Regions from separate parts of the Homo sapiens genome. Here all the other regions are linked to region 4. Evidence: fine-mapped expression QTL. A gene starts in region 4. Each other region holds a variant in brackets. All regions are shown on one strand. Distances are between the middles of the regions.

Region 1 (8,103 bases), 130 kb after region 4:
TGAAGACAGGCACGATATATACTACTAGAGAATGCGCAGTTTCAAACCACAGTTGCAGGAGGATATAGGAATAACGACAGGTGCCGGGGACTACGTACCATGATTTCATAGTGCTCTGCAGCCAGCAGGCTCACTAAACGCTCATCACGGAACATACCACAAATGGTGCTGATCAATGACACACGGGTTTTCATGCTTGTGACACAGACAGACAGCAAAACACCACGGCTTATTATCTTCCCATTGTGTACACCACTCACAGGACGGTGACAGTCCAGGTATTGCACTGGATCTCGGCTTTGCTTAACAGAAAACAACCCTGCTACGGTTGGAAAGAGTTACCACTTAAAACGATTTGGTCAACTTGCACCAAGAAGTAGGTTGGGAACAGGTGTTTTCAGGTGAGCGTGAAACCCCGCAGTGGAACGCTGTGTGCTGCAAATTGCTTATTAATCAGAGAAGTGAGTCCTACTAACTTCCTATTATTACAAAAGTAGAAAGACTGAAAAAAAAAATGAAATCTGAAAATGATCTCATTTGCTTAAGGCTGCACTGAGTGTATTGCAAACAAACAAACAAACACCGGGAAGTCCACTTCGTAAAATGCAGCAGCCAATAGGTGAAAATAATAAAAGAAAGAACTTTTTTTAGGAAGAAAAACACTTGCCCTGTCTTGTGTTGAACGGATGTGTGTGTACTGTTTTTCAGGGGCAGGGTGGAGGGAAGATGTCATTTGGCACTCTCGTAATGACAATGTTTTAATACTGGCACTAGCTAAAGAACAGCGCCCCCAGCGGATGCCAGGACTGGAGGTGGGAGCGCTGTTCATTCAGACGCTGAGAGGTCGGGGTTAAAAAACGCGGCTGTGGAGACAGGAGAGCTGCTGGGAAGCCATGTTTTTGATTTTCAGACAGGTGTTAATTTTACCAGGCTTCATTAATACAGAAGAAAGGAAACGTCTTCCAGGAAAGCAGCCACTGCGGAAACGAGTGTGTCCGGCCATCAATACACAAGAGACTCTTTGTGACTCAACACGTGGGGTCGCGAGGCAGAGCTGGTGGCACTGCGGATCACTTCCATCCACCTGCAACACGGGAACGCCAGTTAGTCAACCTTTTGTTTGGACGGACTCCTGACACTTTGGTGGGCATCGCTTACAGAAACACAAGGTGAAGTCAGGCCGCCTGGTTGGTAATCTGCCACTTCAGCAGAAGAGCAAGGGAACAGCCAGCACCCAGGCGTTCCTGAGGTACAGTGGAGACCCACTGGCCTGGGCACTCACTCAGTGTGGAGCTGGAAGTACCTTGCTGCAGTGACACTGCCCGCTCCATTGGAGCAGTTAGGAGCGAGGTGGCCTCTGGTTGCTGGGGAGAACGCTACCTCCTATTTTCATGGACATGGCAGAGAATGGCGGGACGTGTCCCATCCTGCTTAGTGGAAGCTCTCCCTTCCTTTTTTCTTTTTCTTTTTTTTTTGAGACAGGGTCTGGCTCTGTCACTCATACTGGAGTTCAGTGGTGCAGTTATCGCCCACTGTAGCTACCTCCTGGGCTCAATCGATCCTCCAGCCTTGGCCTCCCAGGAGATGGGACTACAGGCTTGCACCACCACGCCCAAATCTCCCTTTTTATATATTTGTGTATTTGCTCTCTACCGGTGCTTCTCAAATGGGTGCAATGCTGTCCCATTTGGTAAAGTCTGGAGACATTTTTAGATGTCCCAACTGAGGGGTTGCTGCGGGCATCTAGTGGGTGGCCAGGGATGCCGCTGAACATCCTGCACAATGCAGGACGGACTCCCCAAATTACCTGGCCTTGTCCCAGGCCTTTCAGGATCTGGACTGCAAGGCTGGACCCTTTGTCACAATAATAGCAAAATCCCAACTTTGATCAACCCAGCTCTCAACCCAGCTCTCGAGCTCAGTCCAGGATCAGATTTGAGAATGGCTCTCCTCTAGGTTCCTTTTTCAGGTGATGTTGTTTAGGAGGTGCTCAGCATATTGCTGAGGACCCCTCCCCTTCTGCCTCCCGGGGCGAGGAGGGCTCAGCAGGGCAAACTGCACAAGTAGTCGGCTTGGGGATGCAATTTGCAGAGGCCCAGGATCTCTATTCAAAATATGAATTGCAGGAACAGTCTTAGGCCTGACTGTTGCATTTCTTTCTTGGCTAAATGAAGTCTGCAGTCCCTGCCATTACACCATGTAGGCAGTCTCACTGGGGCTTAGCTTCATCATCCCGGACACGTTATGTCAGAGATCTCCAAGCAAGATGTCTAGGGCCTCAGCCAACACCGTGCAGGGTAAGGGCGCAGGGAAGTTGGGACCCCACTTTCTGCCATGAGAACAGAATCGCCTGCTGGTGTCGGGCAGTGGGACCCCAGGTCTAAACGCTTAGTTGGCAGGGAAGGGTGGGGCCATCTCACTCGCTGACTTGGGAGAAATCCTGATGTTTGGAAGAGGGGGTCCTCTTCTGCAGGGCCCTGTGCGTGGGAAGGGGGTGTCTACCTTTCGAACGTGTACTCGCTTTCCGCCCTGAAGTAGTAGACGTGGGACTTGAAGTGCAGCTTGAACACGTAGTCTTTCTGGATGTTCTCGGACTCAGAGGGGATGGTGAGCGAGTAGCCGAGCAGAGGCAGGCTGGCAAGGGGATGATTGTCCTGGAAAGGGGAAACAAAGCAAAGTGGCTTTTCGGGGTCAGCTTCTGCTGCTGGGCCTGGCTGCTGCCCCGCATCAGACAGGGACTTGGGAGCCCAGGCAGCTCCCTCCTCGGGCGTGGGCCTGGAAGGGACCATGGCAGCCAGTGTTTGCCTGTACGTGATGGCCCGGGTGGCAAGTCCCGCCAGGACTGAGCTGTAGATAAAGCCAACCCCCGTCCCTTGTCCAGGCAGAAGACAGGTGGCCCTTCCTAGGGCAGAAGTTGTCCTTCAGTGGATGATAATGTCAGTCTTCCCTAGAGTTGAGGGCCTCGGGTGGACAGGGCCCCCCGCCAGCATCCCTGTCATCCCCGTGACACCTGGAGCCCAAGAGGCCTGAGTCATTCCAGAGGAGGGCGGCCCCCTCACCTCATGCTGCCACCCCCAAGGTCCCAGGGCCACCTGCCCTGTGCGAGACACTTACCTGGTGTGATTTGTAGAAGAACAGGCAGAAGTTTGTGAACACCACCCACAGCTTCTGCCACCCGTTGCTGTTTTTGAATTTCCTCAGCAGGTTTCCAGACAACTGATTCTGAAAGGCAAGGAGGCCTGTGAGAAGCACAGCGGGCACCTGCCCCAGGAGGGCACAGAGAGCAGCTCTCCCTGCACCAGGGCCCTGGGCTGGGGCATGTCCGTGACTGAAGGATGTGGGCCCCACCCCCGCTCCCCCGTGTGTGGGGAGACTTGGCAGGTCCTGGGACCCTGATCTCATCACTTCCCCTTGTCACTTGCTGTGGGGCATCTTGGGGTCCCTGTGTCCCCCCAAAAGACACGTTGAGGTCCTGACTACCAGTACCTTAGAACACAGGCTTATTTGGAAATAGGCTCGTTGCAGGGTAACTAGTGAAGACGAGATCACACTGGGGTAGGGTGGGCCCTAAATCCAACGGGAGTGGTGTCCTGAGGAGAAGAGCCACCTTGAGGGGAGAGGGGTGTGCCCTGTGACACCGAGGCAGAAATGGGGGCGCAGGACCCCATGCATTGCCAGCAGGCGGAAGCTGAAGGAGGGAAAGATCCATCCCAACAAGCTCAGAGCAGCACTCGTTTTGAGGGGCCAGGCACCCTACCCAGGAAGTGGGGCCTGGGGTGCATGTGAGTGGCTCCCACATGCCCTCTAGTGGCCCAGGAGGCAGTTGCAGCCCTGCCCACCTCCAGGCTCAGGGCCGGCCCAGCCCCTGGAGCATTGTTAGGATGCGCTGCAGCCCAGCTAGGGGGCAGGGACAGGCACCTGTGTCCATGCTACCTCCAAACAACTCTGAGCAGGCCTGACGCACTGGTGGCTCATTTCGTCCCTTTGCCAAAGTGACATCACCAGCAGAGACTCAAAGCAGTTGCACCACCTTGTAAAGGCACTTAATGCCACTGAATTGTTCCCGTAAAAATCGTTAAGTTGGCCAATATTGTGGTATAGCTATTTTACCACAATAAAAAATACAGACCTCCGAGTCTGCCTCATTCCATCTCTCTGGGTGCCCCTGGCACTAAGCTTCTGTGCTGGGAGCTGGGATCAAATGGTCTGATGTCCCTGCCCTCCAGTTGCTCAGGGAGGGTCCAGTGGGAGACATGGACACTGACAGTAGGTCCGTGAGGGGCTGCAGGATGTGGGGGACCCCGCAGACGGGGAGAAAGGGCATTCCAGGCCAGGCAGGCAGCTCCAGCCATCCATCCTCCTCCCCCAGTGGCAGAAAGGAACAAGAAAATGCAAGGCTCCAGGTTCCCAGAAGGTCCTGGTGGTGGCCAGGGCTGGGCTGATGCCCATGCGGCATCTTGGGTCACGCAACATGGAGCAAGGAGGGTGGCACACTCCCCTTTCCTAGGTATTTTCATACTGACTCACATAATTTTCACACAGCAGCCAGCCCACAGTGGGGTTCATACATGTCACCCATCACAGTCTGGGCCCATTTGTTTCCAAAGCAGCTTCCTTAGCGCTCTCTAGCTTCTGCCTGGCCATTCCAATAGCCTCTGGAAACCTCTTTATCAATAGGCACATCCAGCGGCCCTTCCTCGCTCCCCACGGCCGGGCCGAGCCTCCCGCTCCCCTGTGTCGGGTCCATCCTGGCCTCCAGCGTGTTACGGGCCCTGCGCGCCATGAGTCTCCTGCCCTGCACTCAGGAGGCCGAGGCCATGCTGGTGGCTCCCAGACCTGTCTCCATTCACTGCCTTCACGAGAGGGTCAACATCCTTGTTCAGAACCAGACCAGCCTGCCCTGTCTCCTCGTGGCCCTTCATTGGGGCCACCGCTCCTCTCCCTTCTTGGATCCC[A/CA]TTCCCTCAGACCCTGCTGTGGGTTGAATTGCACCCCCAACAAGTCCAAACCCTCCGTGCCTACAATGGTGACCTCACATGGACACAGGGTCTCTGCAGATGCGATCGAGTCAAGGTAAGGTCACTAGGACGAGCCCTAAGCCCAGCACGAGCCGTGTCCTTAGAAGAGGATATTAGAGTGCAGATACAGGGAGGACAGCTGGTGACACGGCAGACCGGAGCCCTGCAACATGGGTGGAGTCGGGGACCCCCCGAGAAGAAGACTGCCGCAGCCACCAGATGCTGTCAGGTGGGGACATTTTCCCTCAAGGCCTCCCAAAGGAACCCACCTGCCAGCAGCTTGATTTTGGACTTCCGGCTTCCCGCACTGTGGGAGATGTTTCTGTGGCCTCACCCAGTCTGAGGTTGGTGCCGAGTGACGCCACGGGGAACAAATATAACCCCCGTGCCCGCCACTCCCTGGCCTCACTGTCCCTTCCCTCCTTCCGGTCCTGTCTGCACCCCGTCCCTTCCCTCCTCCCAGTCCTGTCTGCGCTCTGTCTGCTGAACAACTTCCCTGCTGTCCCGTCTCGCCACTCCAGCCTTAAAAGACAACTTGCATTGCTTTGCCTCTGGCCCTTCACTGGCTCTAGTGCCCACAGGCTGGGCAGCCCTCTGGCCATCCCAACATCTGACCCCACCTCTAGTGGGAGCCCCCAGGCCTGCCGGCTTGCCCACAACTTTTAGCAGAGGCCAGTGAGGCCACACGGTCCCCAGATACGCCCCTTCCTCAAGTGTGCCTACACGAGTCAGACGGGAGTGGGAACTGGGAGAGGCTGGGCACGGGACTGGGGAGAGGAGGCTGTTGAGTCAGGAGGAGATGGAGCTGCTTTGTCCTGTCATGCAGGGAGGAGGCCCTGGGGATGGCTCATCTGCGAGTCAGCGAGCATTTGGCGTCTGGCACATGAGGGCTGCCTGCCACCGACACAAGATTGATGCCACGTGCCTTGGGAGGGGGCTTTCTGGCAAGGAGGGACATCTGCAAAGTGATAGAGCAGCCCAGGTCCCTGACTGTACTAGGTGGTCACTGCCACCTTCAAACCCCACTGGCCAGTGGCTCACTCTCCTGCTCTCTACTAGGGTCAGCAAACTTTTCCTCAAAAGGCAGACGGCAGATATTTCAGGCTTTGCAGGCCAAGGGGCAAAACTGAAGACATTATGTAGCAGCCATTAAAAAAAAGTGAAACCCATTCTTGGTTCGCAGGCTGTAAGCCACCAGGCCGGGGCTAGATCTGGCTGGGGGCCAGCGTGCCCCTGACTCAGTGCCTTGACCTGATCATGCACACGGAAGGCTGCGACCGTGTAGATTTGTTATCCAAAAAAGCTGGGCTGCAGGTGGCTCTGGGCCACCTGGACCCCACTTGGGTATTTGCTGCCTCGTTGAATGGCCTGGGTGCCTCCAGGTATGTAAAAAGCTTTGAGGCCTATGACAAACCCCAGCCTTGAGAGTCGTAATTCACACATTGCTGAGGTCAGGACGAAGCAAGGCCAAGACGGTTCCTCCCCAGTGGCGGCGCCACACATCGACTGGCTTCGTTTCAGACACACGCCCACAGGTGAGATCTGATGAGGCCTCGTTTCCCATGAGCCTATCACGGGTTCTTCCCTGCTCCTCCGCTTCGGGGGTCTCCTTTCCTGCTATCATAATCCCCATCCCCTGGGAGAAGTCTCAGACCCGCAAGCTTTGCGCACAGGCCTGGTGGAGGTGTGAAGCTGGGGAAGAATGTTTAGTGCTCTTCACACCTGGGCTGTCAGGAGGCCCGGGGAGGGAATATTCACACCTGCACACTCAGGGGAACCCCATGGGACAGAGCCTCGTATGTGGGGACAGCTGGGAAGAAAGGCTGTGCCCGTGGGGGAGCCAGGGCCTGCACCTCGGATGTGTCCCCTTGAGGATGTCTTCAGAAGCAGGCCTGGGCTTAGAAACAAGCGGCTTGTAGCAGGAAACTCAATAAAGGCAGGTCTGAGCAACGGGGAAGGTCGTTTCCCGAGAATAAATTCCGAGACTCTCTCGAGACCCTCCATGAAGCACTGCTGGCTCATTCCTGCTGCTGTTGGTTCCAAGAGCCAGCAAACTCCTGTCCTGGCCTGAGTCTCTTATGTGACACTCTTTGGACCAGGCCTGTGTGGGAACTGGCCCTTTCTGCGTTTGGAAGGGAGTCCTGCCTCGACTGCAGCAGCCCCGCAGAGGGCGCGGGGGCAGAGATTCTGCGGTGAAACGTGAGCATTCACATAAAACACAATCACAATGATGAATGGCCTCGCCCCAGCTCAGGGCAGCTTCCACTGCCAGTGAGAGATGAAGAAAGCTTTCCTGTTTCACACCTTCACGGGCTTGAAGTGTTCTGAAACACAGCTATGGGCCTGGACTGAAGAATGCTTAGGGAATGGGCATTTGGAAGGGTCTGGAAGGATTCAAGATCTGGGAGAGATGCATCTTCAAAGCCAACTTTCAGGTGGTGGGCTCAGAAAACAATACCCTGAAGTGAAAGGTTCAGAAGCCAGGCTTCCCTGCCCACCTCCTGCCTCGCCCCTTTCCTCCCCAGGCGAGCCACGGAAACTGGACTCCCCCTTCCTTAAGGCGGGTCATTGAAACCAGAACCTCCTTCCCCCAAAGCCAGCCACAAAACCAAAAACGGTCACCCTAACCTTTCTCCACCGTTCTGTGTAAGAGCTGGCTATAAACTTACTCCCTGGCCCACCTGGTGTGAGAAGAGGTTCTAAGACCCCCACTGTAGAAAGGGTCCCGCACCATACCCCGGAGCAAGGAACGCTGCTCAGAAAGGCCCAGAAAACCCGGAGGGGCCCTGCGGGGCTCCTTTCGCCCTCCTGGCACTAGCTCTCAGCCTGTCCCATCAGCTCCCCACGGCGCCCTGTTCTTCACGGAAGCGAAGCATAAAAACAGACGGTTTTCGCCGGACCTCTGGGTCTTCATTCTGAAGGCTCCCATGTCATGTAAAATGACGATGAAATAAACTGGTCATGCTTTTCCCTTGTTAGCCTGTCTTTTGTCACAGGAGTGTCTGCCGTGACCCTCATGATGGGGAGGAGCTGGCACCTGCTTGCCATCGTGCAGACTCTCCTCCCTCCCATGCACCAGATTCCCGTG
Region 2 (8,103 bases), 150 kb after region 4:
GAGGTCAGGGGCCGCACTGTTCCTTCTCCCTCACACGCCCAGTACAGGTGCTCGCTGCGCAGCTGGGGTGTGAGAGCTGGCCAGGCCAGGTCATGAAGACTTCCGATTTTAGCCTGAGGCAGTCAGCCGTCACCCAGGTTTTAAGCCAAGGTGTAAGAAGATGGATTTTTAAAAAAGATGACAGTTTTGGCTAAAGAGTTGGGAGGTGTTTCTGACATTTCAGGCAAGGAATAAGGGCCTTGCCCTCCTAGTGGGTGTGTGGATTCGGGCCACCTGTGCGGGAGCCACCTACGCAGGGCCAACTCCGCATGCTAGGCCAGGGAGGGCAGACACCCACAGACCAACTGTGACACCAGACACAACGACTTCCGTTCAGAAGAGCACGCGTGGCCCCGTGGGAAAAGCAGGTCTGGAATGCGGCTCTGACCTCTGAGTGACCCAGCAAGTCCCTTCCCCTGAGTCTCAGCGTCACGCTCTGTAAAATGGGATAATGCAATTGATCTAAAGGGGTCCTTAAAGGAGTAATGGTGTGAACGTTGGTACAGTATCAGGTACACAGCACCTGGCCTGGGGCTGAGCAAGTACGAGCGGGTAGGACTGTCCATGAGATAGAAGGGCAGGACGGTTGTGACCATGGGTTCTAGATTTAGGTTCCAAATCATTTCCCTCCAAGCTGTGTGACTCTGGGCAGGTTCCTTAACCTCTCTAGTCTCCGTAGTCCCCATATGTAAGATGAACTCACCTGTGCCTGAGGCTTGGGAAGAGTTAATACAGGAGAGATGCTCATTATGCTGATGGGCACATTACAAATGACCGGTAGCAATGAGCAACAGGATTTCTTACAAGCTATGTTCTGTGGCCATGGTAGAGGGATGAGTTTCCGTCACGTGGGTAGAAGCAAGCTTCCTGGGTGGGGGCTAACTGTAAGCGGAGCTTCTCTAGGGATCTTTGCACAAAACCACCCAGGAACCAAAGGAGAAAATGCATGCAAGAGGCAAAGGAAGAAAGGGGTCCTGACGATCATCAGCACCTTCTTTACGGAAAGATCAAGATGTGGCCGGGCACCGTGGCTCACGCCTGTAATCCCAGCACTTTGGGAGGCCAAGGCGGGCGGATCACAAGGTCAGGAGTTCGAGACCAGCCTGACCAACACGGTGAAACCCCGTCTCTACTAAAAATACAAAAATTAGCCGGGCGTGGTGGCGGGCGCCTGTAATCCTAGCTGCTCCAGAGGCTGAGGCAGGAGAATCGCTTGAACCCGGGAGGTGGAGGTTGCAGTGAGCCGAGATCGCACCATTGCACTCCAGCCTGGGCGACAGAGTGAGACTCAGTCTCAAAAAAAAAAAAAAAAAATCAAGATGTAACCAAACACCAGAGCAGGAATAAAAACCGGCGCCCACCCTGATGAAAACCTGGGACCCAGCATCAGCTGACCTCTCTCCCCGGGGAGCCCCTCCCTGGCTGGGCTCAGTCTGGGAGCACCCGGCCTGAACTGTGGCATGGGCACCAGGTGGCGCAGGCTCCCAGCACTCACCTCGGCAGTCCCTGAAGTCGGCGTGGCTCGGCGGGTGGTGTTTGCACAGCCGCTCCAGGACCTGCTTGTAGTGCATGAGCCGGTGCAGTGGCCGCAGGAGGAAGGTGTTGAGCGGTAGGTAACACACCTTCTGCAGCTCAAAGTCTCTGCAGAAGTTCTCCAGCCGCCGGGAGCTCTTGATTCCATTCTCCAGGGCCTCCAAGGCCTCGCTGTGCTTCCACAGGTGAGCCGCCAGGTGCTTGGGAGGCAACAGAGGAGGAGGGTCCTGTTCAGCTGAATGGGATGCACCTGTGTTCTGCCCAGTTTCACTTGGGGAAATGAAGCGCTCCTGCACTCTCTATTTCACGATTTGTTTAATTTCCTTAAATTTCACATTGTTCATAGTTCACTCTTTTTGTTATTTCACTTAAGTTCTCAGGATGAAATAAAAAGGCCTATTAAGGTACTGAGCAGTTTAAAATACACATGGATCATAAAATATATAAGCTATGTATATAACATCAGAGGTATAAATGTTCCTTTAAAATTGAGCCTGGAAAAACTGGGGACAAATATATCAACAGGAGCTCCTTAAGGAGGGCTGTGGTTTTCTTCTAAATGTCTTCAGATAACAAACAGCCCAGGGGCCGTCAGTGAGCATTACATCGTTTTAAAACCACAGTTCTGCTTCCCTCGCCCCGTCTGCTCAGACAGTAGCTAAGCAGCTATGTGAGCCCCTCCTCTGCTAGGTCTGGGGAGATGGATGAGAGTCAGACAGCGCCCTGACTCTCCTGGAGTCATGGTGGGGATGGGGACAGAGTAAGCGCTTGGATGACAGAGCATTAAAGGAGGAATGAATTCACCTGGGTGGGAGGGAGGACTCCCAAGGCAAGGACACTTCCAGGCAGATAGGGGGAGAGCAGAGGACAGGGGACACCCCAGGACACAAAAACCGAGTTTGCTTTCTTCAAGTCTCACTTGATAATCACCTCCCAGAGTGGGCTTGCTCTCTATGTGCTGGTAACTCCCAAATCTGAATTTTTATTTTTTGTGACAGGGTCTCGCTCTATTGCCCAGGCTGGAGTGCAGTGGCGCAATCTCAGCTCACTGCAGCCTCGAACTCCTGGGCTCAAGGGATCCTCCTGCCTCAGCCTCGAGCAGCTGGGACTGCAGGCTTGAGCCACCACACCCAGCTAATTTAAAAAAAAATTATTTATTTATTTTTAGAGACAGGGTCTCACTATGTTGCCCAGGCTGGTGGTCTCAAACTCCTGGCCTCAAGTGATCCTCCCACCTTGGCCTTCCAAAGTGCTGGGAATACAGGCATGAGGCACCACGCCCGGCCTGAAATCTAGATTCTTCTATCATGTATGTGGGTGTATATTTGTATACATGTCTATAGATATAAAAGGCACAAAATGATGAAAGGTTTTGTAATTGACTTGTTTTTGTAGAAAAGCCTATGGTAGTATCTGGCACAGGCGAGTAGCCCAAGTCAGAGAGGAAAATGCGGCACCAGATCTAGATTTCTCATCCAGGCTATGGCCCAACCTCAGTGGCTTCTCCACTCCCACGCCCCGGAAAAAGCTGGAAACACAGCTGTCCAGACACATGCCCACTTCCTCCTGCCTCAGCTGGGGCCCCCGCATTTATTCTCTAACTTCAGGATGGGTACCACCACCAGCCAGGTACTCACGACATTAAAACCTGGGGTACACTCCACATTCTTTCCTTGTATGAACCCGTCCCCAAGTCCTATCAATTTGTCCTCCAGAAAATGTGGGACCTGCCCTTGTCTTCTTTCCCATGGTCACTGTTCTCATTCTGGCTGTGTGGTCTCCAGCCCCTTCCACTTCACTGTGAGTTGAGCCCCTTGAATGAACTTTCTGCAATGCCACTCAACAGACTCCCCTTAAGCCGGGATCCCTCTGACCTCTCTGGCATTGACGCTTGCGACTCACCCTGAGCCACCCACTGACCGCCCTGCATCCAAATGCGGCACACTCTCGCACCCAGAGACTCTGCACACAGTGACCCCTGCTGAGGACCCCCCATCCCTCGGGGTTACTCCGGGGCCTGCCCTGCTCTGTACTCCTGCATCCTCCCGCACTCACTGCTGTGTCTTTCCACAACCGCCCTTATCACACAGCCTCCCTGCTGGGTTGATTTCATGACTTTCTGTTTTGAAATAGACATTCATAGGAAGTTGCAAAGAAACATACAGGGAGGGATTGTGCACCCCTCACCCAGCCTCCCTCAATGGTGACATCCTGCAAAACTAGAGTACAATATCAACACCAGGAAATTGACATTGGTACAGCCCACAGAGCTTATTCAGATTGCACCAGTTATACACGCTCTTGCATGTGTGTGCGTGCATGTGCGTGCATGTGTGTGTCGCTCTGTGCGATGCTATCACACGTGTGGTCCCCTATTTGATTTTGAGAGGGCATCATCA[T/C]GTTGTAACATCCTGGCATGTCGTCACATCCTTGGGGGCCTGGCATACACAGTGGGTGTCCAAAGGTCTTCCCTGTATATACCAAAGAGCCAACGAAGCAATGCACACACCCAGGCCAAGGCAGAGGTCTTGGGAGGACACATGAGTTGACGGTGGCCGGAAGGCAGGGTGGAAGGTGAAGGGTTGGGAGCAGGGTCTGGAGAGACAGCCTAGGACTAGAGCAGAGGCTTTCTTCACTAGGTTTAGAGTTTGGACTGCATTCTCCAAACCATAGAGAAACCAGGAGGGCTTTGCGCTGTCAGTTTTGTGTTGTATGAACAGTGACTCCAGCCATCATATAAGTAGTGGGTTGGAAGGCTGGGTTGGTGGGAGGTGACTCATTGGGAAGCTGGCCTGGTCGCCTAGCAGGAAGAAAACAGAGAGCCAGGAGAAGCAAAGTGGTAGAAGTGTCAGAAAGAGGTACAGGTGGTAGAAGCTTGGAGAGACAGGCGATACAGGAAGGAATGAAGGTCCCCACTTGCCAAGCAGGTGAAGGTCAGGATGAAAGGCCCTTTCTTTGCATTGATTTCCAAGCGTTTTTGTGCGTCTGGATGGATGTGTGCAAGTGGACATTCACAGCGTGGGCTGGAGATCCTGATTTGGGTGTCTCTGACTCTGTGGAGGTGGTTAAAGACCCTGGACTACCCTCCCTTGGTTGTGTGACCTCACTCCTGTGTGCAGAGTCTGGGAAGAGCCAATCAGGCTGAGACTGATGACAGCAGGTGAGTGCACGGGTCGGGGGTGGGAGCGAAGCGGGAAAGACACTGCAGGCTCGAGAACACTCTAAGCATTTGGACAACAGTGCTGGCCTGGGCTTCTCACATTTCTGGAAACTTCTGCTGTGCCCCTCCATGCTTTATAGAAATTCTTTAAAACAATAAAAACAGCAATTAAAAAAAACCCCAACTAACTTCTCAAAAAGGCTGCCAGTGACTCTCAGCAACCTCTCCGTCTATTTTTATTTTGCTTGCACAGAGCTCCATGCTATAAACGCTCATGGCATCAGCACACTCCTGAGATGCCAGCACAGCAGGGGAAGCTGGCTGAATGCAGAAATGCCAGCTCCCCAGACCGAGGAGAAAGAACGCCAGGAGCGGATATCAGGTGTATTTTTAGGTGGTCTTCTGCGCTGGGTTAGGGTAGGGGAGGGTGGGATGTCAGCCTCTGAGGAAAAGCAGTGGTGGGAGTTGGCACACAACCTGGAGAAGGCACGAAGGACACTTGCTGAACAGCACCACACTGGGGACTGTCCCCGCGGGTGGAGATGAACCTGGCAGGTCTCTGCTGCTGTCCCCAAAGGCCCACACCAGAGTCCAAGCCTCCTTGAAGAGGGCGCCTCCCTGGGGAGCTGTGATCTCAGATTGAAGAACACAGGGAGAAAAGCTGAGAAACCAGAACGGCCTTGGAAAAAGTACAGAGCATGTGAAACGAGGGAAAAGATGGGAGAGAACAACAGAAACAGCGTCCTGTTACATGAGAGAGGAAAAAGGACGTTTTTGAAAAGCAAACGAAGCCGGTCTGCAGTGACTACATACTGTCTGATCCCAGCTATGTGACATCTGGAAAGATAAAACTATGGAGATGGGAAAAGGTCAGTGGTTGCCAGGGATTTGGGGGGCATCTAAGGGGGATGAATAGGTGGAGCCCAGGGAAGTTTTAGGGCAGGGAAACTGTTCTGTGGATCCCTGTCATTATATATTTGTCAACACCCAGAGAATGTACACCACCAAGAGGGGGCCCTAATGGTCAACCTTGTCAGTATTGGTTCATCAGTTTCCACACGAGCACCACGCCAATGCAAAACGCTAATAGCAGGGGAAACTGTGTGTTTAGGGGTGGACGGAAGAATACGAGAACTCTGTACTTTCTCCTCAAGTTTTCTGTAAAGCTAAAATTGCTTTGAAAGATAAAATACGTTAACTTCAGAAACTCCCATGGAAAGTGGAAAAGATGTCTGTTATCCTTCTATCTGTTGTGCCTCAGCCATAGCTCATGCCATTCAAAATACTGTGGCTATGGAACATCTTAGGTAATTCTTGCTTTTCTTTTTTTGCATAGCATTCTGCAACCCTGATCACTTCCACGGCCTCTCTCTGGTATTGCCTCAAATTGCAAAGGGTTGCTGTTTGAACACAGTGAAAAAACAAAACAATACCTCAGGATCCAGTCAATGTTACCGTGGTCTTTGTTAAGAGAGATTGACAGGAAATCCCTTGAGTGGCAATTGATCCTGTCTTTTCTGTGCTACTCACCGACCATCCTCCTCTTGTCTCTCCCTCACGAGATTCATCTTTGCTTATTTATTATTTATTTTTGAGACAGGGTCTTGCTCTGTTGCCCAGGCTTGAGTGCAGTGGCGCGATCATGGCTCACTGCAGCATCAACCTGCTGGGCTCAAGTGATCCTCTCCCCTCAGCCCCCTGAGTAGCTGGAACTACAGGCACTTACCATCACTCTTAGCTAATGTTTTTTTATTTTTCATAGAGACAAGTCTTGCTATGTTGTCTAGGCTGCTCTCAAACTTCTGGGCTCAAAGCAATCCTCCCACCTTAGCCTCCCAAATTGCTAGGATCAGAGGCATGAGCCACCACACCCGGCTGAGATACATCATTTTAATGGGAAAAAACTAAATGCTAACCCACTTAGCTAGGATTATGGGAATTAAGACAAACCCTAATGGTAATTTCATTCTATGAGTGTCTTGTGTATAGTAGGTGCTCAGTTAGCACTGGGTGGATGGACAGGTGGATGGATGGATTGAAATGGGGGCAGTATGAGCACCTTCTTTAAGGGGTTGCTAGCTTCTCTGGGCAGTTATTAGTTTTTAAGGTTGTCATACAGGCTCTGGGCAGTTAAGATTCAGGAAGATTGCTTTAAAATGTGAGTACAGGTATATTCAAAAGAGACGCTGTGTGAATTAAAACATTTTATGTTAAAGGAATTATTAATGGATTCAAATGAAAACAAAAAAAGGAAGATTTCAGATATAAGAGATGGGGCAGACTTTTTAAATGTGGTAGAGTATTAATTTAATATTTATTGACTTCTTTGGATATACTTTCACTTTTATGTCATTGATTGTAGATATTGCTGGATGATTAAAAACATATTTGCGACCAGGGGTGATGGCTCATGCCTATAATCCCAGCACTTTGGGAGGCTGAGGTGGGTAGATCACCCGAGGTCAGGAGTTTGAGATCAGCCTGGCCAACATAAACCCCATATCTACTAAAAACACAAAAATTAGCTGGGTGTGGTGGTGCGCACCTGTAGTCCCAGCTACTTGGGAAGCTGAGGCAGGAGAATGGCTTGAACCTGGGAGGCGGAGGCTGCAGTGAGCCGAGATCGCGCCATTGCACTCCAGCCTGGGCAACAAGAGCAAAACTCCATCTCAAAAACAACAACAACAACAAAACCAACCAAACAAAAAAAAAAAACTATATTTGCCTCGTACACTGATTTAAAGTCATAGAATTTACTGAAATACCTACACAGCTCTGAATCCAACATTTTTGTCATGGTTATTAGAAGAAACCAAAACAACTGACTGAAAATGAAATGTTCAGTCAGACAGTGTTTGTCCACATCTTTTTTTTTTTTGAAGTTTTGAATCATCCATTCACAGAAAACACTTGTTTTGGGTATAATGCAAAACTTTTGAAACAAAAAAACCTACTAAAAATGCTTTCGCTAAAGTGATTGGCTTTTCATTCATGCTTTGAAATAAAATTATCTAGAAAGGTTGGAGAAGGGTTTGCCGAACAGCCATCTTCCTGATGTGCCTTAGATTAGACCGGGGTGTCCAATCTTTTGGCTTCCGTGGACCACATTGGAAGAAGAAGAATTGTCTTGGGTCACACATGAAATACACTAACACTAACGATAGCTGATGAGCAAAGAAAAAAAAAAAACCCCAAAATCACCAAAAAGAAAATCTCATAATGTTTTAAGAAAGTTTATGAATTTGTGTTGGGCCACATTCAAAGCCGTCCTGGGCTGTAAGCTGCTGCTCGGCGGTGGGTTGGACAAGCTTGGTGTAGAGAGTCAAATCAGGTGATGCATGCTGATGGAAATGGCTTACAGCCTATGCCCA
Region 3 (8,103 bases), 71 kb before region 4:
TGAATCTGGCCACAATTCTTTGCTGCAATATGATGCCTTGAGCACACAGTTCTTTACATAGCTGACCTCATTCTATAGAGTGCAGAAGAACCACCTGGAAAACTCATTTAAAGTTCAGATTCCTGGACTCTAGCCCCAAAAGCTCTGATCCAGCAGCCCTATGACTGGAGACCTAGATACTTCTGAGAGCATTGCCTTTGAGAAATCTTCTTGTACAGGGCTGTAATCTCGGCATCATATACATTCTAGTCCTATTTCACTGAACCATTTCACCATAAGCATCTTTCCTTGTTGCCACATGGGCTCCACACTGTAATTTGGCCTTTACAGAGCTTCCGTACATCTTAATAATGTCACAGTGCAGGTGGTATTTTCCTAGCTGACCCAGCTCAAACTCTTCCTCTGGTTTTGTTGATCTCAGATGAAGGGTATGGGATCTGGCAGAAGAAATACAACATTGCATCAAGGGGACGCATAGTCATTTCCCTCCATTGGAACCTTTACATTGAATCTGTTTAAGCTCTCCAGGCAAGTCTGAGTGTGATTAAGCCAAGTAGGGGCTCCGGGGTGGAAAATGGGACCAAGATCTGAGCAGGTACAGTCCACCGAGCAAAGTCAAAGTCTGGAGCGGGAGACTGAAGATTGAAAACATTCCAGAAGCCAGTGGTTGGAGCAGCTGGAAGAAGAAGGCCCAAACCACCAGGGAAGGGACTTGAGTGAGGCGGGTGCCAAGGGCACGGGAGTTGAGGAGACACAGCCTCCTTTGTTTCACAGGGGTCTGCCCCACCCTGCTTACCACATGAGCCTTGACAATCGCTCCAGAGAGTCTGCTTTTGAGAATCTCTTGTAATCTGTTTTACCCTGGAAAAAACTTTTATGTCTACTGATCTGCTGGGGCCCATCTACCTGACCCATTCCTATGACTTAAAAGGCCCTCCCTTTTTCCTAACCAGGTACCCTACTGTCTTGCTTAACTAATATGATTATGTCCTCAGCTGGACTAATGGGGGGGACCAAATCCTTCTAGGGGAGAGGGAGAGACAAACAATCAGGTGTTTCTGAAACCTTATCTCCTCTCTCCATCAGCGATGTCGACCATGAAGGATTGGACAAGACTATATATTTCAGGAGCACCGCTCTGGTATGCAAATCTGTGCACAGAGACCCATGACTGCTGAAAACCAGTTTTAATACCTGGTTTCTGAAAGACTCTTCCAGAAGCAATGTGGGTCTTCATCTTGTTGCTATGGAGGTTGCCAAAGGCCTCCAGCTCAGTTTCCAGAATTCGCAGCGTTAGAGATCCCACCATTCAGACTTATTCAAGTCCTTTCCCATGGGCAAGACTCAACAAAACCAACATGCTCACTCACACATTTACAGTGAAAACAGTCACATCTTCATTTTAGCAGGTCAATAACCTTGGAAAAAAAAATACATTCGGATTGGAGTTGTGCTGTGAATATGAAATTAAAATAGAAGAAGCCAGCTGTTGGAAGAAATATTTTTACCAAGCCATGGTCAGCTAATAAGTTCCCATTCTCCACTATCGAGAGACAGATACTGTTTATCCTGCTTGTGAACCCCTTTCCTTTCTGATTTCTGTGTTTCTGACCAATTCCTTTCTCTTCACCTTTCCCTTCTCAATGCTCCAAGCCAACTCTCAGAACTCAACTCACAAAAACATTGCACCATCATCATCCTTTGCATGGAGTTCGTGCCAATCCTAGTTGCACTTCCTCATCAGAACCTGACTATTTTATGATCATTTCTCAAAGCTTCTCTTCTCAGTCCTTGCTGCTGTCAGTTTCCCCTTCACCAAGTGCTTGGCCTCCTTGTCTAGAACATCCTTGCATGTCTTGGAATTCATGTAATCAAGGAAGAGGAGGCTCGGAAGCATCCGAGCTATGCCACCACACCCCTCGGGATGGCAAGCTTGAGAAACTGGCTTTGCAGGAAGCTTGCTGCAGTGAGAAACAGGCTTTATAGACAGGGCGATTGGCATGAAGGAGCCTTGTGAAGGTAGGAATGTATGTCACAGGCACAGTTTTGGGACAAAGTCCAACTCCGTACGTCCACAGGTGGAGCCGATTCCTGTCAGGTCAGTCTCCATCTAGGCGAAGCCCTTCCAGGAAGGGCACCGAGTTCCAGGGCTCGATGACATCACTGGGGCAGAGCTGCAGGACCAGCCCCTGCCCCTGCTCACTCTCTGTGCCCTTTGCAAACAATGGCCTGCCCCAGGGGACCAGGGTAGAAGCCTCCACCCTGTCTTTGCTTCTCTTATCTCTGAAGTATGGTTTCTCAACCTTGGCACTATTGACACTTGGGGCTGCATAATTCTTGGCTATGTGGGCTACCCTGTGCATTGGAGGCTGTTTAGTAGCACCCCTGGCCTTGACACTAGACGCTTCGTTTATGTCAAGGAAAAATGTCTTCAGACATTGATAAATATCCCTTCTGCGGGGCAAAACCACCCATGGATGAAAACTACGGATACCAAGCTGCCCTCCACTTTCAGAGCAATAAGAAGAGGACACAGGGCCTCTGCTTTCAAGTGGGTGCAGAAAGTAAGACTGGAGCGAGGGGAGGGTTGGAGCCAGCAGGTAAATGCTGTAACAGAGGCTTAGGCAATCCCCTGCCGCTGCATCTCAAACACTTGTTTGTGCAACAAATAATTAAATATGCTATGTGCACAAATCTGCCCATTTGTAGATTCTGGACAATTTCAGAGATACCCTCCTGTCCCCTACCACGAGGCTACTTGCATCTATTATGTTTACCCATGCCAAGTCAAACAGAAGACTCCTCTTTTAAAGTCCTCAAAGCAAAGTTCTCAAAGTCCAAGTTCACCACCAGCATCTTAAGAAGTGTGATTGTTGGCTGGGCGCGGTGGCTCATGCCTATAATCCCAGCACTTTGGGAGGCCGAGGCAGGCAGATCACGAGGTCAGGAGTTCAAGACCAGCCTGGCCAACATGGTGAAACCCTGTCTCTACTAAAAATACAAAAATTAGCTGGGCATGGTGATGCTCACCTGTAATCCCAGCTACTCAGGAGGCTGAGACAGGAGAATCGCTTGAATCCGGGAGGCGGAAGTTGCAATGAGCTGAGATTGCGCCACTGCACTCCAGCCTGGCGACAAAACGAAACTCCATCTCGAAGAAAAAAAAAGAAGAAGAAGTATGATTGTTGTTGTCAATGATGATGTTATTACTGCATAAACAACATTAAGGAAAATTTAAAAAACAAACTGGGCTAGGTATGATGGCTCACACGTGTGATTACAGCCCTTTAGGGGTCTGAGATGGAAGGACTGCTTGAGGCCAGGAGTTTGAGACCAGCCTGGGAAACACAGCAAGACCCTGTCTCTACAAAAAATAAAACAAATTAGCCAAGTGTGGTGGTGTGCTCCTATATTCCCAGCTTCCTGGGAGGCTGAGGCAGGAGAATCCCTTCAGCCCAGGAGTTTGAGGCTGCAGTGAGCTATGATGGTGCCACTGCACTCCAGCCTGGGTGACAGAGCAAGACTCTATCCCTTTAACAAAAACATGACAAATTCTACTGTTATATTATCTCTCCAAATCAAGTGGTTCTCCTTTCTTCATTTCCCTCCAGCCCTTTACCATACGAATACATGCTTTTCTTACACATAAAACTCTTGAGTAGACCCATCTTCAATTTTCAACACAACTTCTCCTGAACATTTATGGGATGATGCATACATGAGGAGTCCTTCTGATGTAGAAAGATATCTTGAGCCAGGCA[C/T]GGTGACTCACACCTATAATCCCAGCACTTTGGGAGGCTGAGGCAGGAGGATTGCTTGAGCTCCAGGGTTCAAGACCAACCTGGGCCACATACTGAGACCTTGTCTCTACAAAACATCAAAAAAATCAACCAACTGTGGTAGTGCACACGCATAGTCCCAGCTACTCAGGAGGCTGAGATGGAAGGATGGCTTGAGCCCAGGAGGTTGAGGCTGCAGTGAGCTGTAATTGTGCTTCTGCACTCCAGCCTGAGCAAAAGAGTGAGACCTTGTCCCCAAAAAAAAAAAAAAAATTGAATGAAAATCTACGAACAAATGTACATACCTTTTGCAACAATTCATTCCGCTGTGACCTAATATTTACTATAGGGCATGGAGGAAGTCAGTTTCAGTCTGGATTCCTCAGAATTGTCTACCTCACTCTGCTCAATGATTGAACTTTAAACAAGAAGTGACCTTAGGTATCACCCAGAGTTCTCTCACTTTACAGATAAGTTACCTGTGGCCCAGATAAGTTGACTTTTCTGCCAAGAGAATATGAATAGTAGATAACAAGACTGGGAAGAAATCCCAGCCCTCCTGACTCCCTGAAGCTGGTGGCTTCTCTCCACACCCTTCCTTACTGAACACCCATAAAGTTCACTGAAGGAAGCAGAGATCAGAATGTAGCAACGGTATTAGACACCCATAAAGTTCACTGAAGGAAGCAGAGGTCAGAATGTAACAACAGTATTAGAAAGAAGCTGATACAAACACAGTTGATTTTCACAAAATGTTTTTTATTGTTTGTTTGTTTATGAGAGACAAGGTCTCACTTTCTTGCCCAAGCTGAAGTGGAAGACAGATTATAGCTCACTGCAACCTCAAGTGATCCTCTTGCCTCAGTAGCTAGGACTATAGGTGTGAGCTATTGTACCCAGCTAATACACACACACACACACACACACACACACACACACATTTTAATTATTATTTGTAGAGACAAGATGTTGCCCAGGCTGGTCTCAAACTCCTAGCCTCAAGCGATCTTTCCATTTCAGCCCCCCAAAATACTGGGATTACAGATGTGAGCCATCACGCCTATCTGATTTTCACAAAGGGTTTTAATTCAGTTTCCTGTACTGTAAGGGTTCTGGTTCTGGGTGTGTGACATACAGTAGAAACTGCCCTAGATTAAAAGTTAGAAAATATGGGTTAAATCTGATCTCTACTATTAATGAGCCCTAAAACCCAAGATGAATGGCTTAACTTCTCCGATCCTTGGTTTCTTCATCTGAAAAAATGTCAGAAATAATTCCTATCAAGTGTGTATTAAGAATCTGAACAAGTTATATTGTTTGAACCAGTAATCTCCTGCTTCAGGAGTTTTATCAATAAAAAACTCTGGTACCTAGAAATAGTATTATGTACAAAAGCACGTAACTACTCCTCTGCTGGTAATTACCATGTATTGAGCCTCCTATATGATTGCTACTGTGCTAGCTGAGTTATGTAATGGTCTCTAATCTCCATAACAAATCAGAGAGATGAGTATTATAGTGTTTATTTTACAAAGGAGAAAACTGAAGGCCAGGGAGGAAAAATGCCTTGTCCCAAATCACCCAGATGGTGAGTGGTCGGAGCAGAGGTCAAACTCCCATCTGCCTCTCTCAGCCAATTTTCCTCCCATTATGCCTTGTTATTTTTTTTGTAATGGCAAATATTTGGAAACAAACCTAAATAACCAATAATAGGGTTTGATTTAAAAATTCTAGAATGGAATATTTTCAGCTATCAAAACATTGTTTCTTTAAGGTTTATTAATCACTTGGGTTTTTTGTTTGTTTGTTTGTTTGTTTGTTTGTTTGTTTTGAGACAGAGTCTCACTCTGTCACCCAGGCTGGAGTGCAGTGACTCGATCATGGCTCACTACAACCTCCACCTCCTGGGCTCAAGTGATCCTCCCACCTCAGCCTCCCAAGTAACTGGGACTATAGGCATGCGCCACCACACTTGGATAATTTTTAATTTTTTTTTTAGAGACACAGTTTCACCATGTTGTCCAGGCTGGTCTTGAACTCCTGGGCCACCTGGCCTCCTAAAGTGCCAGGATTACAGGCGTGAGCCACCGCGCCTGGCCTTAATTACTTTCAACAAGATGCTTCATGGGCTCTTCTGCCTGATGGAGCTAGAGGGGCACTAAGATAGAAGGGAAGGGTCTCCATGCCCAGGCCTGGGCGGGGAAGGGTGGTGGCAGGAATGGATCACCCACCTGTGTGATGAGGCATTCGCAAAGATACCAGACCAGGGGATCAAAGACCTGAGCAAGTGCAAAGCCAATGAGAACTGAGTGTAAACTCACATGTGAAGGTGTATTAGTTAGAATGTAGGTTTGGTTGCTCTGACAGGGAAACTTCTATTTAACAAGGTGGAAGTTTAATTATCTTGCAGAGACATCCAGGCAGGTTGTCTGGGAATCCTAACATCATCAGAGACCCAGTTTCTTTTCCTTCTGTGACTTACCATTCTCAGCACAGCCTCCATCTCATAGCGCAAGATGACTGCTCCAGTCCCCACATTCTAAAGGAGGAGAAAAGGGGAAGAAAAAAGAACACCCCTTCCCTGCAGGACCACAGCCTGGAAGTTACACGCGTCAGTTCTAGGCACACCCTGTTGGCTAGAATTTGGTCACGATGATGCATTCATGCAAAAGGGTCTTGGAAATATAGTCAGTAGAGCTACCATATGCCAAACCCAGAATCCCAGTTATAGCAAATAAAGGGAGAATGGATGTCAGGGACAACTAGAACAGAGGGCTAAGGCAAGGCAAGCAAGACACGGGTCATTGTCCCGTAACCATCTCTGGGGACTCTGAAGGGGGTGTTAACCACGAAAACACAGCAAAACATCCCCAAGTCCATTTTACATTGCTCTAATTTTCTAGGAATTCTCCTTGTTACATCTGCTTCAATCTCCCCCAACACCACCTTCATAAGAGATATTGGGTAAAGTTTTACATGATTTCTCCTGGCCTTTTTTTTTTTTTTTTTTTTTCTGAGACCAAGTCTTGCTCTGTTGCCCAGGCTGGAGTGCAATGGTGTGATCTCAGCTCATTGCAACCTCTGCCTCCTGGGTTCAAGCAATTCTCCTGCCTCAGCCTCCCGAGTAGCTGGGATTACTGGCATGTTACTACCACACCCGGCTAATTTTTCTGTATTTTTAGTAGAGACAGGATTTCACCATGTTGGCCAGGCTGGTCTCAAACTCCTGACCTCGTGATCCCCCCGCCTTGGCCTCCCAAAATGTTGGGATTACAGGCATGAGCCACCGCACCCAGACTTCTCCTGGCTTTTTAAGGTCATGTATGTTTTTGTTGGATAAGACACTGTGCTGAGATTGGTGGCTCAAGCTAACAAGTTATTATTTGCATTATATTGGGTTTAAGAACCAGGACAAAAGATTGTATGTAAAAGAGAATCACAACTTTGATTTTTAAATGCACAGGAAGAAAATTTGAGGGTAAACCTACCATTTTGTGAGTGTATTTTTTGGGTGTTAAGGTAAGTTTTTTCTTTAAAAATATTATTTTCCAGTTTCCAAAGTTTCTGCAATGAACATCTATTAATTTTATATTCGGACATTTTAAATGCTTATTTAAAAACTACTGCCTACTTGTCAATTCTTATGTAAAACCAATGAATGTAATGTAGGTGAAATGCCTTAAACTATAAAGGAAAAATTGAAAAAGCAAAATTTTTAGTATGTGTTATACTGGTGATTATCCAAGGAAAGGGTATTACTACAAGGCAGTGGATTTAAGTGTAATTGATTCTTCTAATGCTAAGAAGATCAATGGTGTTCTGAAAGAATCTTTTTTGGTATTAAGGTTCTCTGTCATACTGGCTAATATTTAATATTCACTTACTATTTGCAAGACACAGAGTCAAGGGTTTTGCGCATATGATGATGTTTAATTTTCACAACATTCTTGTGAAAGAGGGTCTCTCATTATTCCCTTTTTCAGACAGAAATGGAGGCTTCCATTTCTGATTAAGTAATTAGCCCAAGATGCACAGTTAGTGATCTAAGAAAGAAAAACCTCCTGAAAGAAAGACAACCGGAACGTCCTACTAAAAGATCACGCTACCTGTCATACCTAGGGAAACTGACCCAGAACAGCCAGCACCAAGTCATATTTTAGCAAAACAATTGGACAATAGAGGAAGAAAAGGGATTTTTTTTTTTTTAAGACAGGGTCTTGCTCTGTCCTCCAGGCTTGAGTGCAGTGGTGTGATCTCAGCTCACTGCAACCTCCACCCCCTAGAGTTCAAGTGAGTCTCGTTTCTCAACCTCCCAAGTAGCTAG
Region 4 (8,103 bases):
AAGGTAACTAAGCAAAAATGAAGTAATTGGGATGAGCCTTAATCCAGTACGACTCCGGTATCTTTCTAAAAACAAAGAATTAGGGCCAGGCGTGGTGCCTCACACACTCTGGGAGGCCAAAGTGGGCAGATCACTTGAGGCCAGGAGTTCGAGACCAGCCTGGCCAACATGGTGAAACCCCGTCTCTACTAAAAATACAAAAATTAGCCGGGTGTGGTGGCGCTCGCCTGTAGTCCCAGCTACCAGGGAGGCTGAGGCAAGAAAAATGCTTGAACCTGGGAGACAGCGGTTGCAGGGAGCCGAGATCTCACCACTGCACTCCAACCTGGGCAACAGAGCGAGACTCCATCTCAAAATAAATAAATAAATAAATAAATAAATAAATAAATAAATAATAAAAACAGGAAATTAGGACACAGGAACACACAGTGAAGACCACGAGAACACAGAGGGAGAAGCTGGCCGCTACAAGCCCGAGAGAGGCCTCGGAAGAAACCAATCTTGCTGACACCTTCATCTTGGACTTCCAGCCTCCAGAATGGTGAGGAAATAAATTTCTGTCGTTTTGGCCATCCAGTTGGTGGTTCTTTGTTACGGCAGCCCTAGCAAACTAAGGCAGGGTGCAACTGAAAACCTACTTAGGGTGATATCCCTGCAAGAGCCTGCCCTCTGAGCTCTCCACGCACAGAATGAAACCTTATTGGTACCATTCCTCAATGTAGCTGGGATATTTTTCTGGGGCTTTGGCATACCTTTTCTTGCTATTGTGTCATCCAACAATGACTAGACATTCTTCTTTAAACTGATCTTGATAATTTGTCTTCACCTACTGAACATGTGTAGAAATTTGTCTAAGCCTTCTGTTAGTTACTTATCCAAGCTACTCCTATTTCTCCCTTTAAAGTTCACCATGTAAGTCCCTTTCTTTAATCTCTGAATTTAAATTGCTAATGCTCTACTTGTCTAGCTGTTCTTTATAAAGCAGCATTTGGGGGTGTTTATCTTTTCAACTTAGAAAGAAAAGTGAAGGGATTGATTGTGGAATTCTTGTTTTCTGTTCCTCTCTGAGCTCTGCTGAGAGTGCGTACAAACTAGCTTAGGGGCAGCAAATACATAGGGGCTTTATATTTGGAGGGGCTCCATATAGGGGTATGGAAATATTCTTTGTGGTCCAGAATATATTTCAGATCATAATTCATTGCCAGACTGATGTCCTTAAGTGAACACAAAAGACAAAGAGGACCAGGGAAGAAAAATAATTCAATGGATAAAGTAAATAACTCAATGGGTTAGTATCTCCATGGAGACCATAAAATGCATCATCTCTATGGAGACTCTCATAATCTCCTTCTGGACTTACGGTAGTGTATAACCTGTTGTAATCATACATTGGGGGTGGAGGGAAAGTGACAAGAGGAAGAGGGTGAGAGGATGATCCTTTTCTTTCCTTGGTGGAAATGATAGCTATTGCCACTCTAAGTTTAATCAATTATGGTATTGTATTCATCCAAAGTTAGGATTCTGGGAGACCAGGTCCCTAGGATGGGTTAAGAGGCACCTGAGGATCTAATGTTTATATGCCCAGTACTGAACTGGGTATCTGACATGTATTAATAGTTGGTATTCAAAAAAGGTGTGAATGAATGAACATAATAGGCAATTGCACCGGATCTGATCCCGGGCTCAGGCCCTGTGCATCATCTCTGTTGTGCAAAAACAAATAAGGTGGAGACCTACTTCTGCCATGGGGAATACTCGGTACTACCTGCATAGGGCCAAGGAGAACCAGTAACTCCCATGTTGCTTCCTTCCCTTCTTTCGATAAGAATGGTGCTCAACAGTATGAACATTGTCAAAGGATGAAACAATGGTCAGTGTGGAGAGAAGATAAACAGGGTTCGGGGCAACAGACCAGCTAATGGATGCAAGTCACTGTGTCCAGAGAAGTTACATCCTGCCGGAATCTCCCTGTTTTGAGCCTCACTAGCCTCAGGACACAAACTAGGATTCCGGTTATTTTTTTATACCCAGGGTACTATGGGCCTTTGTCCCCCATCTGCTGTGACTTATTTGCTGGCAATTAGCCCACTGCAAAGTGATTTCTGAGCATTTACCATGGTAATGTCTCAGATCAGCATCCAGACATTTCCATCCATTCATCTAGTTTCTTGCTCTTTATCTTGGTGCCAGGTTATTGCCCTGGCTCTGCTGACCCTAGAAGAATATTTTTACTGTCCCTTTTCTATGCTTAGACATGTTTAGATCCACAAATATTTACCATTGTGTTATAGTTGCCTCCAGTATTGAGTTCAGTCACATGCTGTTCAGGTTTGTGGTCCAGGTGCAATACGTCATACCATATAGCCTAGGTGTGTAGTAGGCTATGCCATCTAGGTTTCTGGAAGTACACTCTATGATGCTCACGTGACAAAATCAACTAAGAACACATTTCTCAGAATGTATACCCATTGTTAAGCAATACATGACTGTGTGTCTGTAGGCCATATATATTAATATATATATAGTCATTTGAGATCAGTCTATATACAGTGTTTTGTACCCTGTATTTTCTTTAATAATATATAATGAATACATTTTCCCCATTACTAGGTACTGAAAGACATAATTTTAAATGACTACATAGTACTCGTATGAAAATGCTATTATTTACTTAACCTCTGTGAGACTTTTTGGCTGTTCCGTTTCCCCAGGATTCTAAACATCACTGTGTCTTCTTACATGCATTCTTCCACACTTCTTGGTTGTTGCCTTAGGATATGTTACTTTAGGTAGAATTCCTGGGCTGCGCTGAAGAATAGAAACATTTTAAAGATTCACATTCTTGCTTGTTTTGCTGTTCGCCTCTTTAGGTACCATATTTTTTAGGTGTACAAAATTTATACACCTGATTTTAAGTTCCTGGGTATCAGGGTTCATACTTCTCTTAATTTTGTATTTCCTTGCAGTCCTACTTACGGGTGGCAGGGCTCCTCAAGGGATGGGTGTACCAATGACAACCATGAAAGTATTCTAAGGTATTCCCTAGGACTCCGAGAAAAAACATGCATCTTTCCAAAGGGAAAGAAGGGATTAGATGTTAGCATCCTACTCCATGTCAGATCCAGAGCACCCGGGGGAACTGAAGTTCGTGGATGGAATACAATGACACCTCAGAAAAGAAATACTCCTTTGGTGGAGGCCTTTAAACTTTTGGGGGCTCATTTTGTCTGCCTAACTCGCCCAGCCAGGGCGCAAAATGGCCACTTAGGAGCATGAGTGAGGTGCCAGCGTCCCTACAATCTAAGGAGCAGGGAGTCATCACTGGGGTGGCTGCCGCTCTACCTGTTTGCGACTGTAATAAAACACCTTCTGGAGGCCGAGGGACCCGCTTCATCCTGACTTTTCCCCTCAGTAGCTAGAGAGAAGGCGGCTGAAAAGAGGAGACAGAACTGGTGCTGAGTGGGCCTGGAGCTTCCGAGGCAAGGGAAAGAGGGAGAGGGCTGCAGTTCAAAGTCCAGACGCGCTTTCCTTCCATTCTCTTCCCTTCCTCCCTGCCCTCTGCGCCCCATTTTCCCCTTATCGTGGGTGGGGGCTTCTGATTTGCTGCGGATCCCAGAGATGGTGGGGTTCAGCCTCCGCACTGCTTAGCTAAGTTCCCAGCCCAGCAGTCCCAGCCGGGCTGTTTTCGGTAACCAAAGCACTAGGAATTAACCTCTCTCTCGGCCTCTTCCCTTTCGGTTTCCTTCTTGGGTTGGCTGGAAACTTCACCCAGACACCGAAGCAGCTCTGCCCGGCCTTTTGGCACAGGCCACCGGCCGAGGCCCCACGGGGCGCTCTCCTTCCCCAGGTGCCCCCGACTCCGATCCTGCCCTCAGGGGCTCGCCCGGGACGCGTTTTCCCAGAGGCCGCCGGGGCGGGGTGGGCTGGCTGGCGGGAAGAGGGGGCCGCGGCCCAGGCTCGCCCCGGCGCCGGCCCGGTGGGCACGCGGCCAGCCTCCGGCCCCGACTCGGTCCCTCCCGGCGCCCGCCCCAGCCGAGGCCCCCTCCCGGCCCCGCCGCCCGCCCGCGGGGGCGTGGGAGCGCCGCAGGAGCAGCTGGGACCCGGGCCGGGCCGACAGGCGGCGGCTGCGGCCTAGGGCTCCCGCGCGGCCACCGGCCTCTCCCCTCCCCCTCCCGGAAGCGCGGGGCGGGGTCCCCGGCCGGGCCGTGGGGGCGGGCGCGGGGGCCGGGCCGGGGCGGGACGCGCTCGGCGCTCGCGGGCTCGGCGGGCTGTGCGCGCCCACTCCGGCTCCAGCGGCCAGCGCGCGCGGGCCCAGGCCGCCCGGCTCCAGCCCAGCAGTAGCGGCAGCAGCGGCGGCGGCGGCAGTGCGCGCGAGGCCCTGCGCCCCCAGCAGCTCCTCCCTGGCGCCGTGCATGGAGACGCGGCCCGCCACCCGCCGCTGAGCCCCCGCCGCCCGGCCGGGACCCGCCAGGGCTGGGGTGGCCTCGGGCTCCGGCCGGCCCCGCCGCCCGAGGGCTGCGCGCGGCCCGCGGGCCTCGCCGCCCCGCGCGGATCGTCGCGGCCCGGCCGTCCCGTCCCAGGAAGTGGCCGTCCTGAGCGCCATGGCTCACTCCCCGGTGCAGTCGGGCCTGCCCGGCATGCAGGTAGGCGGGCGCGGGCCGCGGGGCCGGGATGCGCGACCGGGGCGGAAGCAGCAACTTGGCGGTATCCACACGGCGTCCCCCTACGCTCAGCCGGCCGGGGTCGCGCCGGAGCCTGGCTCCCCGCGCGCCCGGCTCGGCCGGGGGTCCGAGTCCGAGTCCCTGGGCGTCCCTGCCGGCTCCGGCGGCCGAGGTCTCCGGCGTGTGCGTGCAGGAGCCGTAGGAACCGCGGCCTGGGTCCGGATGTGGGGGTGCGGGCGCCTAGTCCTCCGCGCTCCCCTCGCCCCAACACTCTTCCGGAGCTGCAGGCCCTGGGTGGCCCTGTCCCCGGGAGAAGTGAGGTGGAGTGATGCCCTTGGAGGCCCCCGCCGGGTCCCGGGGCCCTGCGTGGTGGCCGGGTTGGCGGAGGGCCCCAGGACGCGTCCCCCAGGCTCGTCCCCCACCCCCGGGCAGGCGGGCGGGAGACCTGGGCAGGGCGGGGACGGGGAGCGCGCCTGGACTCGTCCGGGCCCGAGCGGAGTAGGCAGGGTGGAGTGGAGGAAGGTAACCGCGAGTTCCACTTGCAGTGGCTTTGCCCGGAGCCCCCGTGCACCTGCGGACCGGGGGAAAGTGCGAGTTGCAAACCTTCTGGAAGGAGGAATCCCTCGGACAGCCGCGCACCAGGGTCCCGGGCCCGGCCCCGGGACCCTGGACTTTCACTTTGAGACTTGGTTGCATTTACAGGAATTCTTCGCCCAGTAAACCTCTCTTTCGGTACTTGGTGACACCTTGGCCTACCAGTGACTTTTTGGGGAGTGGGAGAGGAGTTGAATTTCAAATTTACATGTATAAGTTAAAGGTTTTTTGTTGTTGTTGTTTTCGTTGTCGTTGCTTTTAGCCCTTTGAAAAACAAAGCTACCGTCCTTGGCTAACTCTTGTAAACTTTGTAGGCGCAGAAATGGTGGCAAAATGCTTAGGATGGAAATCTTAGGATGCAGTTAGGATATGTCATGAAAGTTTGCTCTGCCAGTTTAGCTGAGTGAACGTTAAGTGTTTGAAGAAAACCAAAAGCATCCAAGTAGATTACTGGTTGATTTACAGGTACCAACAGGCTCCTTCCCTGTGTCTTGAGGGCTGAGAAGCACAGAGCCCAGACCTGGGACTGCCTCTGGGGTCTGCTCGCCTCTTCCAGTGAGATCATCCCTCTCCCTTCTTTTTTTGAAACCGTAAAAAGAAAACTGGATTTCACTGTTCAGGTTTGAATTCTGGAAAAATAGGAACTCAAAGTTACCACTTTAATGGCAGCTAGAATTTTAGTCCAAGTGTGTGTGTGTGTATATGTGTGTGTGTGTGTGTGTGTGTATATATAAGCAGTATATATATGTGTGTATATATGTTTAAGCAGTAAATAAATATACATTTAAGCAGCAACAGTTAAGTTATTATCTTAAGAGTGACTGGGAAGATGCTTGAAGAATATTCTTTTGTCGACTCTCATTTAAGGAGCGTTGAATTTAGCATGCATTCAAAACCTAAACTTCTGCTGACTGCTGGGTAACAATCAGATGTGGTTTCTTGGTATTTTCTAAAGCCGCTTTGGTATGAATTTAGAGGTGTGTAGGTCAGAGTGAACTGGGTGAAAAAAGTAATTTCTTACTAGTCGAGCAAGAAAGGACTCTTGTAATGATTTAAAAAAAAAGTTTTATCAATATTTCCTTTAGGTTGATATTTATACCGTGTTCATCAGGTTGGAATCTAGCACAAATGCCTCACTTACTAGGTTAATTGGCCTTTGTGGATAGCGAATCAGTTTGAAAAGGTACTAAAGCCCCTTTGGCTGGTGCCGTGAAGTCAGTATCAGATGGTTACCAGGTGATATCTAGTATCTCACCTTTTCATTTTTATCCTCACTTTTTTTTTTGAGTGGGTCAGAATTCTTAAACCTTGGGAAAAGAAGATACATTTCCTTAATAACTTTGCCTCTCAACTATTATGTATCTGTTAGGTTGTGTTACATGGGAACTGTTTTTATTTTGTTTTCTCAGTATGAAAGATCTTAAGTGTTTCTCAGTGGAAAAGATGATCAGATTTTCAGCTGTTACAGTTTTACAGTTTTAGAGGTAGGTAAGTTGGCTTCTGCCAGTCATTCCTGTACCTAAGTACATCTACAGACTGTATGGTAACAGTGTATCATTTGGGGAAGAACATTCTTTTCTCCTCCCCCACCCCACAAAAGAAAAACAACAGCACATTTATTTTCTACTTCAAATTAGCAGTTGCTACTGCCCTGGGAGGCTTCCCTAAGAGTTGTTGCTGAAGATTCAATTAAAAACACACCTGCTTTCGACTGTTGTCTGCTAAATGGGAGGAGAGAAGTCCGTATCTCTTCTATGGCTTGCTCTGATAGGCCTCATAGCCCTCCCTTTTTCTTGTCTCCTGACCAGGGCTTATAAGGAGTTGGCTTAGAAAGACAGCAGAGTCTGTAATCTCAGCAGTTTGAGAGGCCGAAGTGGGCGGATCATGAGGTCAGGAGATCGAGACCATCCTGGCTAACATGGTGAAACCCTGTTTCTACTAAAAATCCAAAAAATTAGCTGGGCGTGGTGGCACACGCCTGTAATCCCAGCTACTCGGGAGGCTGAGGCAGGAGAATCACTTGAACCCGGGAGGCGGAGGTTGCGTTGAGCTGAGATTGTGCCGTTGCACCCCAGCCTGGGCGACAGAGGCAGACTCCGTCTCAAAAAAAAAAATAAAATAAAAAAATAAAGCAGAGTGAATTCAGGTGGCCTAGGCAAGGATGCTTGAAAAATAACAACCATGTTAGTATAAACACCATTTTTCAATGTTTTGCAAATCATTTTTATGCCTCTTGATTCTTACCGGTACCGTTTGAGATGTAGATGATATTATACCATTTTGTAGATGTGGAGACCAAGGAAGACTTAACTGACCAAGGTGAGATCATATATTATGTGGCAAATTTGTGATTGGAAACTACTACTCCTCCTACTCCCACTCATCATGCAGTGTTACTGTTTTATGGTTACTTTTGCAAACATTAAAGTTTATCTCATTGCTAGTTAGATTGGCTAAAGAAATTAGAAATAGGAGGCTGATTTTTTAATTTATTCAATCAGCAACCCTTATTGAACTTTCATGTGCCAGGTCCTAGGGGAGGGGTTGAAAGTGGTAGATCTGAATGAGGTTACCATTTAAAGTAAATGTTTAATGAAAGTTGCTGAAGCCTTTGCTTTTTTTCTCTTAAACCCCAGTTTTATATTTCAGTAGGGGAAAAAAATAGACATCAGAAACTGAATGAATATAGTGACGAATAAACATAAAGAAATCAGGCTGATCTGTGGCTATAAGTACTCCGTCTTTCATTGAGCATTTGTTGTTTCACTCAATTGAGATTAAAAGAAAAGCTTCAGATGGAGGCAGGAACACCAATCGGCTTTGAGTTTGCAGAAATGTGATTTAAAAA

The links.
Region 1: its variant is fine-mapped to the expression of STK24 in cerebellar hemisphere (GTEx, PIP 0.95).
Region 2: its variant is fine-mapped to the expression of STK24 in whole blood (TOPMed, PIP above 0.99).
Region 3: its variant is fine-mapped to the expression of STK24 in whole blood (TOPMed, PIP above 0.99).

What each region holds. Positions count from the first base shown.
Region 1 is chr13:98,441,217-98,449,319 of GRCh38, reverse strand. It overlaps FARP1 (FERM, ARH/RhoGEF and pleckstrin domain protein 1), which reads right to left. Exons shown (of 27, transcript NM_005766.4): 25 at 3,115-3,222; 26 at 2,503-2,654; 27 at 1-1,084. The coding sequence ends at 1,003. STK24 (serine/threonine kinase 24) reads left to right here. Exons shown (of 11, transcript NM_001032296.4): 11 at 1-4,135. Among named protein-coding and RNA genes, the nearest start is that of FARP1-AS1, 9.4 kb to the right of the region's middle. RefSeq lists enhancers at 3,211-3,260, 4,031-4,080 and a silencer at 3,191-3,485. The variant A/CA (reference allele first, on the strand shown) is at 4,956.
Region 2 is chr13:98,424,712-98,432,814 of GRCh38, reverse strand. It overlaps FARP1 (FERM, ARH/RhoGEF and pleckstrin domain protein 1), which reads right to left. Exons shown (of 27, transcript NM_005766.4): 18 at 1,535-1,772. Among named protein-coding and RNA genes, the nearest start is that of FARP1-AS1, 7.1 kb to the left of the region's middle. The variant T/C (reference allele first, on the strand shown) is at 3,972.
Region 3 is chr13:98,644,530-98,652,632 of GRCh38, reverse strand. No RefSeq gene overlaps it. Among named protein-coding and RNA genes, the nearest start is that of STK24-AS1, 71 kb to the right of the region's middle. The variant C/T (reference allele first, on the strand shown) is at 3,762.
Region 4 is chr13:98,573,285-98,581,387 of GRCh38, reverse strand. It overlaps STK24 (serine/threonine kinase 24), which reads left to right and starts at 4,281. Exons shown (of 11, transcript NM_001032296.4): 1 at 4,281-4,643. The coding sequence starts at 4,602. STK24-AS1 (STK24 antisense RNA 1) reads right to left here and starts at 4,133. Exons shown (of 1, transcript NR_046542.1): 1 at 2,547-4,133. RefSeq lists an enhancer at 3,568-3,757 and silencers at 3,848-3,997, 4,018-4,327, 4,378-5,247, 6,712-6,771.